Linked DNA regions of Homo sapiens. The protein of the gene in region 2 purifies or fractionates together with the protein of the main gene of each other region. This does not show direct contact. Each region holds a gene or a part of one and is shown on either strand. Other genes may lie near its edges.

Region 1 (3,754 bases), on a different chromosome or scaffold from region 2:
GAATGATGGGAATACTGCCTTTGTAGTGTCTCCTGTATCTGAAGTTGGATCCTAGCAACCTAGTTTGGGCAGAAAACAGGATGTCTTAATTTATTTATGATAAATCAACATACGTTTGAAAGAACGGATCCTACTATCTGACTTTAAGTTTGCTAAAATAATGTATAAATGAAGATTTCTATCATAATAGGCTAATATTATCATAACAGACATCAACTAAACATAATAGATTTCACAGGAAGTATACTGTGGCAGACTCCTTGCTGCCCAATACTTATACCTTCCAAGACTGTAGCCAAATGGTTAGACTATACAGCTCAGCCTCCTCTGTAGGGGAGGTATGGCCATACAACCAAGTTCTCTTCAAAGGAATGTGAGTAGAAGTAGTGTGTCATGTCAGGGCTATAGTTTTTAAGACAGTGAATGTGTTCTTTCTTTTCCTTCCACCCTCTGCTGAAGATAAAGCAGAGGCCCTAGGGAATGGTAGTGCCAGAAAATAGAACTTGGGTTCCTAAATCAACCACACGGAGGAAAGCCAGCTGCCAATCAGGAAGACTCACCTTGGATTTTTGTGAATAAGAAACAAACTTTTGTATTTGGACGATGGTATGTTTTTGATTCTCTTAGTTAGGGAATTTTAGCCTACTCTACTTCATACATCTACTTATTTGCTTCCAAAATAAATGGTGAATGTGATGTAATCCACTTGCTGTTGAAACAGTTGGGAAAAACATTTATTTTTTATTATTATTATTTTTTGAGACAGAGTCTCAGTCTGTCTCCCAGGCTGGAATGCAGTGGTGCAATCTCAGCTCACTGCAACCTCCGCTTCCTGGGTTCAAGCAATTCTCCTGCCTCAGTCTCCCAAGTAGCTGGGACTACAGGTGTGTGCCACCACCCCCGGCTAATTCTTGTATTTTTTTAAGTAGAGACAAGGTTTCGCCATATTGGCCAGGCTGGTCTCGAACTTCTGACCTCATGATCTGGCTGCCTCGGCCTCCCAAAGTGCTGGGATTACAGGCGTGAGCCACTGCACCCAGCTGGGAAAAACCTTTCGAAGTGCCAAAGAGAAAACTTCTAAATTATAGCAATGTTTTTATGACCCAAGTGCATCCTTAAAAATCTTTAAGATTTATATCTAAACATAAAAATAAATATAAACAGACAAAAGCAACTAGAATAATAATGACTTCTCAGACCTATTACTTACCAAGGGAAGAATGGAATGTGGAATAACTATGTGGCTAGTACTCAATGTGGACACAGCTTAAGATCTTTAGCACTTACCTCCATTTTTTCTTCTAATTCATGAAGAAATTCACCATCGGCAGCTATTGATGAAATGGCAGTGGAACTTTTGGCACTAAGAATGGCTCGAGCAATGTACTCTAGTCGCTGCTGAAGTGAAATTTCTGTGCTAGAAGGGAAAACGCTTATTTTTAGTTACACAATTTCTTAAGGATTGATGATACAAATACGTCAATTAGTATGTACTGTTTCATACCAAACACACATAAAAAGCCATCTGAAACTTGAAAAAAAATCATTAGATTTAAAAAAAAATCTATTTTAGATTTCTCATAAGAGAGATCCACAATTTTAGACAACACATAAAGAAATACATTTATGACTAAAAAGTAACATCCTATTTAAAAAATTTAGGTCAGTATATTAAAACTTAGATTCTTCTAAAATTAAAGAAAACTGAATGTAAGTACATATAGCTCAGTTTTGAATCATTCTTCACAATAAGAATATTATGCCATACCTATGCATGTCAGCCAGTCTGGACAGTACACGAGCAGCATTACTGAAACTTCTGTTCTTCTCGTAATACCGCCAGAGTAAATCCATATAACGAACTCTGTTTTGATCAACTTTGGCCATTCGGACTAGATGTGGCTCCAGAAATGGAGAAGCAACCTAGAAATTATATAGTTATTCAGAAAAATTTTCTAACCACCTACAGATAATGTTCCTGATAAGGAAAATATAGTATTTTTAAGTCAACTACAACTTTGCCTTGTTTTATGAAAACAAGCAAAATTATAATCCAATACTAACAGATAAAAGAGAGGGCAAATTTTCTTATTATAAACAATTTTTGTTTTACCACAGTTAGCATAAGAGTTTCCAAAACAATTCTATTAGGTTGATAACAATAATTTAGTAGGCTGGGCATGGCGACTCATGTCTGTAATCCTCGCACTTTGGGAGGCCGAGGTGGGCAGATCATGTGAGCTCAGGAGTTTGAGACCAGCCTGGGCAATATATGGCAAAACCTCGTCTCTACAAAAAAATTAGCTGGGTGTGGTGGTGCGGGCCTATAGTTCTAGTTACTCAGGAGGGTTAGGTGTGAGGATCACCTGAGCCTAGGGAGGTCAAGGCTACAGTGAGCCATTATCGTGCCATTGCACTGCACTTCAGCCTAAGCTACAGATTGAGACCCTGCCTCAAAAAAGAAAAGGAAATTTGGCCGGGCACAGTGGTTCATGCCTGTAATCCCAGCACTTCGGGAAGCTGAGGTGGGCAGATCACCTGAGCTCAGGAGTTTGAGACCAGCCTGGCCAACATGGTAAAACCCCGTCTCTACTAAAAAGATATAAAAATTAGCTGTGCGTGGTGGCGGGTGCCTGTAATCCCAGCTACTTGGGAGGCTGAAGCAGGAGGATTGCTGGAACCCGGGAGGCGGAGGTTGCAGTGAGCTGAGATCATGCCACTGCACTCCAGCCTGGGCAACAGAGCCAGACTCCATCTCAAAAAAAAAAAAAAAAAAAAAAAAGGGAAATTTACTATAAAATTACAAATTTTTAAATAAACTTTGATAACACAGCTATTGATTCCTAGACATTGAGCTCAAAGGCATTATTGAAATTATCAAATGCTATGTATTCATTAAACAGATTGAGGAACACTGAAACTTAGGGTAGGTAAAAGGACATATCTGAAGTCACAGTGACTTAACAGCAGAGTTAAGATAAGATGACCTACAGGACTCATATTCATAATCCAGTGATTTCTACCCCGCAATACAAACTATCCCAATCAGCTTCGAATTAACAAGAAAATTGGAGCAGTAGCCTACTTTGCCCCTTAGGAAAAGATACTGCATTACTCAGCTTTATACTAACATCTAATAGCAGGCATGGGATGAGAAACTGAATTTTTTACATCTATATATGTGCTTAAATCATTGAGTTATGCTCCTTAAGAATAATTAACACAACTGCAATAAAAAAAGATTTACCTGTAGCAGCTTATCTGCAAGGTCGACTTGTATTAGCCAATTATAAAGGGCAATACTAAAGAGCTCATCCTTGGATCGCTGTGACAATTTAAGCATTTGTTCAAACTAAAATAAAGAAAATAGTAAAAATTAGCAGTTAAAGGCTCTGTTTCTGGGCATCACAACCCTTTAGCCCTATAAACTCCAGTAAGAAATCAAGAATCCTTACATGATAACTTCTAAGAACTACCACCTTTCCCCAAGATGACTGTGCTACCATTACCATGGAGAACTTCTAAACAGTGTATTCTCAGAATGAAAATATACTATGTCCCTTACATGATGTCCTGCTTCTTCATTACTCAGCATATTTGGATCAGATGACAACACTGGAGGACCAGGTTTTTTGGGTACACTGGGAGACTGAGGAGCGGCCTTACTTTGATTTACCAGTTCTTGAAGTGTGTCTGTAATGCATTTGTAACTGTTTAATCTGAAAGAAAATGGAAAAGGAACAATTACATTATT
Region 2 (3,754 bases):
AAGTTATTTGACTATAAAGTAAAAAACAATTGAGCTATACTGGATTTAATAGGAGAGGAGTAACTATCTGGACTGAAATGTAGATAGTTGACAAAGCAGTTTATTTAATGAAGAAAAAGTTAATACTGGATTTGCACCTTAAGTTGGAAATTTAAAATATAAGAGAGCATTTTGGTACTAAGGGGTTCACTGTTGAGTTATCTGCAATATCAAAAATAAAGAGCACAGGCCAGGCGTGGTGGCTCACGCCTGTAAATCCCAGCACTTTGGGAGGCTGAGGCGGGTGGATCATGAGGTCATGAGATTGAGACCATCCTAACACGGTGAAACCCCATCTCTACTAAAAATACAAAAAAAAAAAAAAAAAAGTAGCCGGGTGTGGTGGTGGGCACCTTAGTCCCAGCTACTCGGGAGGCTGAGGCAGGAGAATGGCATGAACCCAGGAGGCAGAGCTTGCAGTGAGCCGAGGTTGCGCCACTGCACTCCAGCCTGGGCGACAGAGCAAGACTCCGTCTCAAAAAAAAAAAAAAAATAAAATAAAATAAAATAAAATAAAATAAAATAAAGGGCACATACCTGTTCAGTGGTTAAACAAATTACACGGTCCTTCTGTATCCACAGGGGATTGGTTTCAGGATACTAAATCTGCAGATGCTCAAGTCCCTTATATAAAATGGCTATGCGGAGGGGCACGGTGGCTCATGCCTGTAATCCCAGCACTTTGGGAGGATGAGGTGGGTGGATCACTTGAGGTCAGGGGTTCAAGACCAGCCTGGCCAATGTGGTGAAACCCGTCTCTACTAAAAATATAAAAAATAGCGGGGCGTGGTGGTGGGCGTCTGTAATCCCAGCTACTTGGGAGGCTGAGGCAGAAGAATTGCTTGAACCTGCGAGGTGGATGTTGCAGTGAACTGAGATCGCACCACTGCATTCCAGCCTGAGTGACAGAGTGAGACTCTGTCTCAAAAAAAATGAATAAATAAAAATAAAAATGATCAATAAAATGGCTATGCACATCCTCCTGTACACTTTAAATCATCTCTGGATTACTTATAATACTTAATATAATGTAAATGCTATTTAAGTAGTTGTTATGCTGTATTGCTTTATTTGTATTATTTTTCATTGATGTATTAGTATTTTTTATTTTTTTCTGAATATTTTCTATCCATGGTTAGTTGAATCCTTGAATGTGAAACCAGTAGATACCAAGGGCCAACTGTAGACTATACTCATGGAAAGAAATAATAACATGAGAAATTTATCCTGGTATAATATAGTAAGTGAAAAAAAGTAGGATTCTTTCTCTGACTGGTGTAATTAAGGAGGATTTAAATTTCTCTTGTTTTATACTTTTCTGAATTTGCCAAACTCTCTGAAATGAGTAACATTATTTTAATCCTGGGAATGACCTGGCATCACAGGCAGGGCTCTTCCTGCAGGTGGTAAGGTGGAAAGATCGTAAGGTTCTGGGTCAGAAGAGCAGCTCCTGTCTGATCTGTTTCCTATGGGCCATGTAATGCTGAGCAAGTCCTGTGAGCTGTGGGAGAGGCCTTGGCTTCTCACTCAGAGTCTGCTCTGGAGTAGGGAGGGAGGAGGTAGTCAGGGAGGAGGACAGCCTCTCTGCCTTGCCTTGGAGACCTACCTCCAGGTCGAAGCTGTCCAGGGCTGGGTGGAGCTTCTCCTGGCATGTGAGACAGTCCCTCTGACAACTGCTGAACACACTGGAGAAGAGACTGAGCAGCAGCAGGTCACAAAGCAGGACTTTCATGGTGCAGGAGCAGGAAGCAGGTGCTGGAACATACAGGAAGCATGGCAATGAGTACAGCCATTCTCGGAGGGCTGCTCAGGGCCAGAGACCTAACCCAGAGAATGCAGGAAAGACACTTCTCTGCTGTCTCTGGCAGGATGGCACTAGGGGCCTGTGATTCACTTTGCAGGGGTGTAAATTGTCAAGGCCATAGGCGACCCTGCCTATCACCTAGGCTCAGTGTTCATGTAGAGGCTTGTTAGTGTGTCTGGGTTCCTGGGTTAGTCCTGGGTGGCAGGACACCCCTGTGATTCCTGCCACCTGGCTGGCCTCGACACCTCATAGGCACTTTTGGGAGCAGCTGTGTGGTGGCAGAGATAGCTTTCTTGGGAGCTAAAGGCATCGCTTTGCAGTTTACCAGCATGTGACATTAAATCAACCACTTTGAGCCTCAGTTTTCATAGCCCATAAAAGGGGAACAGTGGCACCTGCCTTATCACAGGCCTATTGTGAAGATGAAATGAGATCTGTAAGGGGAGTTTTGCAAAGTGCTGTGCAAAAGTAAGATGAGTAAAATATGACATTTATTAATGACTCAAATGCTTCCTTTCATCCTCCTGGCCTTCCCTGCTGCAGCCAGGAATGCCCCCAACCCCCCATACCCCGAATTCTCTCTTCCAGGTACTTGCCTCTTATCCCTGTTAGATGTGAGCTAGTGCTATGGTCTATCTCTGTCTCCCTAAAATTCCTATGTTGAAATCCTAACCTCCAACGTGATGATATTAAGAGATGGGATCTTTGGGCCAGGCACAGTGGCTCATGCCTGTAATCCCAGAACTTTGGGAGGCCAGGGCAGGTGGATCACTAGAGGTCAGGAGTTCAAGACCAGCCTGGCCAACATCATGGCAAAACCCTGTCTTTACTAAAAATACAAATATATATATATATCCGGGTGTGGTGGTACACACTTGTAATCCTAGCTACTTGGGAGGCTGAGGCGAGAGTATTGCTTGAACCTGGGAGGTGGAGGTTGCAGTGAGCCGAGATTGTGCCATTGCACACCAGCCTGGTTGACAGAGTGAGACTCTGTCTCAAAAAAAAAAAAAAAAAAAAAAAAAAGAGAGAGAGAGATGGAACCTTTGGGAGATGATGAGATCACAAGACTAGAGCCCTTATGAATGGGATTAGTGCCCTTATAAAAGAGGCCCCAGAGAGCTAGCTAGTCCCTTCCACCACTTGAGGACACAGCAAGAAGGCAAAATCTAAGAGCCAGGAATAGACCTTCACCAGACACTGAATCTGCAGGCACCTTGATCTCAAACTTCCCAGCCTCCAGGACTGTGAAAAAGTTGTTTCTGTTGTTGGCAGGGCAGAGTGGCTCATGCCTGTAATCCCAGCACTTTGGGAGGCTGAGGCAGGTGGATCACTAGAGGTCAGGAGTTCAAGACTAGCCTGGCCAACATGGTGAAACCCCATCTCTACTAAAAATACAAAAATTAGCCAGAAATTGCTTGAACCCAGGAGGCGGAGGTTGCAGTGGTCCAAGATCACGCCACTGCACTCCAGCTTGGGTGACAGAGCAAGACTCCATCTCAAAAAAAAAAAAAAGAAAAGAATTTTATGTTGTTTATAAGCCACCCAGTATACGCTCTTTTGTTACAGTAGCCTGGACAGACTAAGACAGTTGGCTTCCCGAGCAAAGGGCCATGTTATTCACCTTGGCATTCCAGGCCAAGCACAGGCCCTGGCATGTGGAACTTGCTATTTAAAACCGAACAAAGAAACTATTCCAAGATAGTAGCTCCAAGGATTGGTTGATTAGATCAGTGGTTTGCAATCTTATGTAGGATTGCCTGAAAGGTGTGCAGTTTTCACTGTTTCTCCTTGAAACTTATCTTTTGATCAAGGCTTCTAAATCTGAAAGATGCTTCCCTGTACTGTATCATTTTGGGTCCCTGTAGAACCATCTTTAGGTAGAGGATTAAATGGAAAAGGAACAAAGAA

The links. Proteins that work in one complex are often made in the same cells at the same time.
Region 1: the proteins of PNOC (region 2) and NUP155 purify together in Homo sapiens (co-immunoprecipitation; 2 studies listed by BioGRID and IntAct, with this or other methods). This does not show direct contact.

What each region holds. Positions count from the first base shown.
Region 1 is NC_000005.10:37,301,492-37,305,245, forward strand, and holds part of NUP155 (nuclear pore complex protein Nup155), read right to left. Parts: intron 3,720-3,754; coding exon 3,566-3,719; intron 3,353-3,565; coding exon 3,248-3,352; intron 1,924-3,247; coding exon 1,769-1,923; intron 1,418-1,768; coding exon 1,288-1,417; intron 60-1,287; coding exon 1-59.
Region 2 is NC_000008.11:28,327,175-28,330,928, reverse strand, and holds part of PNOC (prepronociceptin isoform 1 preproprotein), read right to left. Parts: intron 1,795-3,754; 5' UTR 1,772-1,794; coding exon 1,646-1,771; intron 1-1,645.